Homo sapiens: one gene and its partner. Changing the gene in region 2 together with the main gene of any one other region gives a genetic interaction. Each region holds a gene or a part of one and is shown on either strand. Other genes may lie near its edges.

Evidence for each region. A genetic interaction does not mean that the proteins touch.
Region 1: changes in SIRT7 (region 2) and RB1 together harm fitness more than expected from each alone (negative genetic interaction), as found in Homo sapiens cells (one large-scale study listed by BioGRID).

Annotation. Positions count from the first base shown.
Region 1 is NC_000013.11:48,474,490-48,478,289, reverse strand, and holds part of RB1 (retinoblastoma-associated protein), read right to left. Parts: intron 1,841-3,800; exon of another isoform or gene 1,768-1,840; intron 1,590-1,767; coding exon 1,447-1,589; intron 936-1,446; coding exon 886-935; intron 1-885. UniProt on the Homo sapiens protein: Tumor suppressor that is a key regulator of the G1/S transition of the cell cycle. The hypophosphorylated form binds transcription regulators of the E2F family, preventing transcription of E2F-responsive genes.
Region 2 is NC_000017.11:81,911,325-81,915,362, reverse strand, and holds the end of SIRT7 (NAD-dependent protein deacetylase sirtuin-7), read left to right. Parts: intron 1-660; coding exon 661-759; intron 760-832; coding exon 833-1,069; intron 1,070-1,195; coding exon 1,196-1,276; intron 1,277-1,482; coding exon 1,483-1,589; intron 1,590-2,748; coding exon 2,749-2,947; 3' UTR 2,948-3,424; downstream 3,425-4,038. Other genes in the region: PCYT2 (ethanolamine-phosphate cytidylyltransferase), read left to right, coding at 4,008-4,038. UniProt on the Homo sapiens protein: NAD-dependent protein-lysine deacylase that can act both as a deacetylase or deacylase (desuccinylase, depropionylase, deglutarylase and dedecanoylase), depending on the context. Specifically mediates deacetylation of histone H3 at 'Lys-18' (H3K18Ac).

The DNA.
Region 1 (3,800 bases), on a different chromosome or scaffold from region 2:
AGCATCCTTTTAAATATCTTATTTTCAAAGTTAGTATCTACAAAGATGTATTAAAAGAAAGCCTCTCATTTTAATTGGTATTGTTCTCATTAGTGTGTCCTGTGACCTAGGAATGATTGTTTTAACACCTATCTCCTGAATATTTGTCTTCTTTCAAAATCCCAGTTCCTTTTCCTATCAATGGATCTGGCAGCAGATACTGGGAAATGTTACACTCACTACCATAACTACCTAAGACAACCCAATAGTAGTTAGTGAACATTTATCTCTTTCCTAATGTGCTTTCCATCTACTATCCTTGGATTATTTTTTTTGTCTAGTCTCAGAGTAGTTTTGAATAGAATTCCACTTACCCTAACATGATATCACTCTGTATAACTTGGAAAATGACATAAGTGTTCTTTATTAAAATTCTGATTTCCAGTAATGGAAACTTTTGTTTGAAATTGTTTTAAGATTTGCAAATAAGGAAAGTTTAAAAATGGTAGAATCAAAGGTTATTCCTTAAATAAGGGTGATGATGTTTACATATGCTAGGTTTATAAAACTTTTCCCTATATCTAACACTCCCAAATAGCTCCTCTTTGTAGTTCTGCTAAAGTATTTTCTAACTGTAGCCATTTGTGTTGAATGTGGTCAAGCAATGTTTCACTTCTTAGTCTTCCTGCATGAAAGATCATAGAAAGGGTAAAAATGACCTTCATTTTACATCATACATTTAATCCACAAATGTTTGTAGATAAATAACCTTGATTGAATTATATTTTAAATGCATAAACAAACCTGCCAACTGAAGAAATTATACATTCTTTTATATAACGAAAAGACTTCTTGCAGTGTAAACAATTGTTTATTTCATTTACACAAGGTGAAAAAAGTACTTACTCATTTCTGCCAGTTTCTGCTGAAATTTGGACTCTCCTGGGAGATGTTTACTGCAGATTAAAAAAATGCAAAACATTTCATGTGTATTTATAAATGGAAAACTCAAATTTCCAGTAACTATGATGCTTTCGATGACTTACTTTATGCTATTATTTTAGTGAGTAGCTTTTAATTTTAAAATTTAAAAACTAACCATCTAAAACATAAATGTCACAAATTTATGATGCTATGTATTTTTTCAGTGGTTCTCACAAAATACAGTGGTTAATATTTTTCAAGAGTAAACATTTTTAAATTTAATGTTAAGAATAACAAAATTTTATCAATAGCTTTGTAAAAAAGATCAGGGTTTATTAGATATCTTCACTGAATGTTGGTATGCAATTTGTAAGATGTTTTTAACTTTGCACTACACTCATATCTATTATTTTGAGCCATTCTCACAACTTCCAAATAAACTTGGCATGAAAGAAATTGGTATAAGCCAGGAGCAGTGCTGAGACTCTGGATTCCCCAGATGACCATCTCGGCTACTGGAAAACATTCAAAACTGGTTCCTACCTTCCATCTGCTTCATCTGATCCTTCAATATCAAAGCGTAGTTTTTTCAGTGGTTTAGGAGGGTTGCTTCCTTCAGCACTTCTTTTGAGCACACGGTCGCTGTTACATACCATCTGATTTATTTTCTGGAACTTCTCAGAAGTCTACAAATTACAGAATTCTTTACTTTAAATCATTAAATGCCAGTGTTTCATAGTTAGCAACCTCAAGTTATAGTTTGAGGTGTGTCAAAAATCAGGCAAAGGTAATAACTTCATTTAAATTTTCTGCTTCATTGGACCAAATAAAAGATATGAAAAATCTAAAAATCAGAATAACTACCTAATTCCATCCCCAATTAAACACCCACTCTTTGTAAATCCTCCTGTCTTTTCCCATGCAGCTCACATTCTTCCTCCAGCAACTGCCTACTCTGCAAGTCCTGGTTCCTCATTTTCAGAACCCACCATACAGGACTACTTTTCAGAAGTAGGCAAGTCAGAACAGCTTTCTGGAAACTTGCTTTTGTCCTTTTTTTGTTTTTTAGGCTATTATACAACCAGAAGGAAGGTCACAAGAATTTGATAAGAGATGATGTGTTCAATGAATAATAATTTTTGATTCACTTTATGGGTATTATGTTGACAAGTCATATAGACTTTCTGATAGAAATTATATCTGATTTGACGGATAGATTCAACAGTGAGGATTAGCTTTGCCAATTATACTTTATTTTCCAAAAATTAAACTAGCGAATTCTCCCAATATTAAATTCAAAACAGGTTTTGATGGTAAATCTATTTGGAGCACATATACAATTTAACAAAAACTAAATCCCGTGCTGCTATTAAATGTATAATATTTTAAATTATCAGCTTTAAGATATGGAAGTACATTCAACTTTTTCCCAATTATTTTAGAGGTTATGGCAAGCAAAAATGTTTGAAGACCACTATGTGATACCTAGCCAGTTCCAACTGTCCTTATAAGGTCCCATAGCTCCTTTGTAAAGTCTGACAGCTGAGCCCATCGTGAACTATTTGTAACACACATTTTAATATTTGGTCATCTGGCATATAAACTTTTACCTCTCCCTAGTTACTTGAGGCAGTGTGGTGGGCAGCCTCTCAGATGGCTCCCAATGACCCCACCTCCTGGTATTCACCTCCTTGTGTGATCCTCCTCCCCTCGTGTGTGGGCTAGATCTACTGTTGTCTTGCTTCTAACCAAAATAATATGCCAAAAGTAATGGGCTGTCATTTCCAGAATTAGATTACAATAAGACTGTGACCTCTCTCTTGCTCTTTATTTCCCTGCCTCCCTCAGAGTCCCTGCTCTGGGCAAAGCAAGCTGCCATGTTGTGAATAGCAAGCAGTACTATGGAGGGGCCCAAGGGCAAGAAACCAATAGAGGGGCCAATAGCCATCGAGGATCAGCCAACAGCCATTTGAATAAGTCTGCCAGTGAATGCTCCTCTAGTGGAGCCTTGAGATGACTGCAGGCCCAGCCCAACTGACACCTTGATCACAGACTTTGGAGAAACTCTGGCCCAGCTAAGTCATGCCTAGATTATTGACCCACAGAAATGGAGATAATAAGCGTTTGTTTTAAGTCACTAAGTTTGGGGGTAATGTATTATGTAGCAACACATAACATAGGCAGTCTTCCCATTCCTATAAGAATATAAGCTCTCTGGCCAGGTGCAGTGGCTCACATCTGTAATCCCAGTTCTTTGGGAGGCTGAGACGGGGTATCGTGGAAGCCAGGAGTTCAATACCAATCTGGCCAACATAGAAAACCCTGTCTCTACAAAAAATTTAAAAATTAGCTGGACATGGTGGTGCATGCCTGTAGTCCTGGCAACTTGGGAGGCTAAGGTGAGAGGACTGCTTGGGCCGAGGAGTTTGAGGTTATAATAAGTAGGTGACAGAGTGAGACACTGTCTCTAAAAATAAAAATTTAAAAATTAAAAATATAAGCTCTCAGGGGAATGGAGATGGTGCAACATATTAACAGTAATGCATATTGAATATGGGACTGCTGAATTAGTGACTTTAATGGAAGGCCAACTAGGGTTGTGGATTTGCAGCCTAGAATAAATGTTTCAAAGCAAAGCTTTCCCTTGGATCTCCTAGAATGAAGCTCTGCCACTTTCACTGAGGCAGGATCTCATGCAAACAATTCCTAATCAGTGTACCAGAAAAAGAATATCCTAGAAGTCTGAGAGGAAGGACAAGCAAAAAGTGCATATGTATGGAAGGAGACCAGTAGGCAGGGACAGGCTGGTGACATTTGGATATCGGGCTTACATTTTGGAGTATCTCATTTCAAATCACACTCATAATGAGTGAATTTCAAAATTGTTTTATAAAGAT
Region 2 (4,038 bases):
CCCGCCCTCTGTCTGCCAGTTGACTCCCATGATGAGCACCCACCAAGCGGGTTAGGCCGCGGGTTTGATCCTCCTGTGCTTGACTCTCCAGGACAGAAGGGGAGCTCCCCCTCTGAACCATCCCATCCGCAGCCAGCCTCAGCCTCAGAGCTGCTGGTGGCCTTTCCCCTTTGTGATTCCCTTGCATTTTTCTGTGGACCTCAGAAGCCATCCTAGTCACAGGGGAGGCTTATAGGACATCTCTGGGGACCTTCTGCTGAACACCCTCAACCAATGGGGTGTAGTGGTTGATCTGCCTAGGTCCCCAGGGACCTGAAATGTCATGACCCAAGAGAGCATGGATCTGGGGCAGAGTGGCCCTTGCCAAACCCCGAGCCACTTCCCAACCTTGCCGGGACGGTGCAACCTCTTGCCCTCCCAGCCACTCCAGGTGCATCAGGGCTGGAGGAAGGACAGCCCCTCCCCACCACAGGCCCTCTTGACTCCTGGTGGTTGGACCTGTTGTGTGTTTTACTTTCTAAGGCTCTCTGGGGGGACGGAGCTGCCCCTGGTTTTGGGAGCCATCGGCGGGGCTCAGAACAGCCTCGCTGTGGCCGGGTACTGACCTCCCCACCACCACTGGCAGCCATCCCTCCCCTTGCCACCCGTTCTGCCTTCCAGGTGCAGCATGTGGTGTCTCAGAACTGTGACGGGCTCCACCTGAGGAGTGGGCTGCCGCGCACGGCCATCTCCGAGCTCCACGGGAACATGTACATTGAAGTGAGCAGTCCTGCAGGGACCCAGGGTCTCCATGGGCAGGCGGGTCCCACTCACTGTGCCCTCTTGCCTCTAGGTCTGTACCTCCTGCGTTCCCAACAGGGAGTACGTGCGGGTGTTCGATGTGACGGAGCGCACTGCCCTCCACAGACACCAGACAGGCCGGACCTGCCACAAGTGTGGGACCCAGCTGCGGGACACCATTGTGCACTTTGGGGAGAGGGGGACGTTGGGGCAGCCTTTGAACTGGGAAGCGGCGACCGAGGCTGCCAGCAGAGCAGACACCATCCTGTGTCTAGGGTCCAGCCTGAAGGTACGTGCCGATGACACAATGAGTGAACCGAGCCCCTGCCCGCCCGAGGGTGTCCAGCTCTGCGGCCCAGCACTGTACAGACTTGTCCCTTGTGTGTGTGCGGTGTCTGTCTGTCTGCTTCCACAGGTTCTAAAGAAGTACCCACGCCTCTGGTGCATGACCAAGCCCCCTAGCCGGCGGCCGAAGCTTTACATCGTGAACCTGCAGGTAACTCGGGTGCTGAGAGCCACGTCCTTAGATCTGGGTCTTAGAACGCACAGCCAGAGACACCCCACACCCATGCACCAGGGCGGTCTGATAGGGCCCCCGTGGGTGCTCAGGGAGCACCGACTGAGCCCGTAGGGGCCAAGGCTGACAGGCCACCGGGAAGGGTTGGGCTGCTGTTACTCTCACTCGGCTTTCCCTGTCCTCAGTGGACCCCGAAGGATGACTGGGCTGCCCTGAAGCTACATGGGAAGTGTGATGACGTCATGCGGCTCCTCATGGCCGAGCTGGGCTTGGAGATCCCCGCCTATAGCAGGTGAGTGAGCCGCTGCAGCAGCCTGCTTCCCCGCACCTCTGTGTGCTGGGCCTTGTCTGTCTTCTCTCGTGAGCTGAGTGTGGAGGAAGCTCTGAGGTGTTTGCAGTGGTGCCTGAGGCATGACTGAAGCGTGGTGGTCTCCAGAGGGCCTGACCTCGGTGGTTGGCGGAGACCCTGCGTGTGCCACTCCTGCCCTGGCTGATGTGGCACACACAATCCCCGCGGGGAGAGGGATTCTGCCCGCGTGCTCCTGCTCCAGGCCTCCCCGTGGAGCTCTCCGAGATGCCTGGTGGGAAGCATCTGGAGGGGACGAGCACTCGGCAGCTCTGGTCAGACAGAATCTGTGTGCTTGGTTTTGGGAGTTGGCGTACTTTGGGAAAGCTTAAACAAACTGTGCCTTAATACAGAATTTGTGATAATTTAGACTTGGTGTATGTATTGAGTAAAAAGTTTACACTCTCTTTCTCTGTGAATTTTCAGGGTCTTATAGGGGAAATCAATAACTTCTTTTAATCAAAGGGTTCAAGAAATTAAGGATCCCTTCACCTTCTGGGCCTGGCACTTCTTGTATGTTATGTGTGTGGTGTTCTGTGATGTGGGCTATCGTGTACTGTATTTTTTTTTTACATTAACTTAGCTCATTTTCCTTATCAGTGCGTATCTGTATCTTAAGTTATGATCTGTGGTTCTGCATCTCCGTCAGACACATGCTTTCTTCACGGGGTCGTCTGTAGGCCACGCCTCCCTAGTCAGCTGGGAAGGGGGAGAGGGTCTGGTCCACCTGCCCCAGCGGTACAAGTGGAAGGTGGGGCCCAGAGTTGCTAGTGACTCATCCCTGGAGACGGAGGCAGCCCTGGGGCCACTGCTGCCCCACCCTGTGTGTGCACGCCGCTCAGTGGTGGACAAGGACACGGAGTTTTGAGGAGACCGAGCTAGTGTGGGTGCCGACCTTTGAGTCACCACCTAAGAGGTGACCTCTCCCACATCCGTTCTGCAGCTTGGTAACAATGAAGCTGCCGCCAACCAGAGCCCCGCCGCAGTTGACACGGGAGGGAAGGGGATGGGAAGGCAGGGACCGCAGACAGCTTTCCCGAGCTGGGGCAGGTGTGACTGCGAGAGGCTCCCAGGCCCGCCTGATGCCGCTTTCCCTTTTTGGCAGGTGGCAGGATCCCATTTTCTCACTGGCGACTCCCCTGCGTGCTGGTGAAGAAGGCAGCCACAGTCGGAAGTCGCTGTGCAGAAGCAGAGAGGAGGCCCCGCCTGGGGACCGGGGTGCACCGCTTAGCTCGGCCCCCATCCTAGGGGGCTGGTTTGGCAGGGGCTGCACAAAACGCACAAAAAGGAAGAAAGTGACGTAATCACGTGCTCGATGAAGAACAGTTGGCACTTTGCAGATGGCCAGTGTCACGGTGAAGGCTGGGTTGCCCCCACGGGTCTAGGGAGAACGAACTCTTTGGGGATGACATTTTCACCGTGACATTTTTAGCCATTTGTCCTTGAGGAAGCCCCTTGCACTGCTGCGGTTGTACCCTGATACGGCCTGGCCATCGAGGACACCTGCCCATCCGGCCTCTGTGTCAAGAGGTGGCAGCCGCACCTTTCTGTGAGAACGGAACTCGGGTTATTTCAGCCCCGGCCTGCAGAGTGGAAGCGCCCAGCGGCCTTTCCTCGCTCACCAGGCCAGTCTCAGGGCCTCACCGTATTTCTACTACTACTTAATGAAAAAGTGTGAACTTTATAGAATCCTCTCTGTACTGGATGTGCGGCAGAGGGGTGGCTCCGAGCCTCGGCTCTATGCAGACCTTTTTATTTCTATTAAACGTTTCTGCACTGGCTTCCGGTGTCCCCGAGTGGTCGGCGCGGGCTCCCCGGGCTCAGGTCTGCCGCCTGGCAGCTCGGTCGTGGCTTAAAACTCCCTTGGTTGGACAGGGGACAACTGTAGATTATTGTGCCAAAAAATAAGAAAAAAAACTCCCCTGGTTGGGACAGCGCCCCGTGGAGGTTCCCGGAGGTGGCGGCGGTGGGACGGTCCCCACGCCGCACTGCCCCGCCAGCCGAGCGCCAGGTGTGGGCGGTGCGGAGAGGCCAGGTGTGGGTCGGGGGGCGGGGCTCGGAAAGCGCGGCACACGCCATTGGCTGTGCGTTTGGAGGGGGCGGGACTCTGTCAGGGGCTCACGCCATTGGCCGTGCGCGGAGGTGCGGTGGGGCGCGGCCTTCGGGGGGTGGGGCTCGGGGCGGAGGGCGGGAGGCGGGGCGGGGGAGGCGGGGGCGGGGCTCGGGCCGAGCGGCGCACGCCATTGGCCGTGCGCAGCGGGTGAGGCCCGCGTGACGGCCGCTGAGCGTGCGCCTGGCGGGGCGGGCGGCGGCGCTCGGAGTCGCCGGGAGCTGCCAGGCTGTCCGCGCCGCCGCTGCGGGGCCATGATCCGGAACGGGCGCGGGGCTGCAGGCG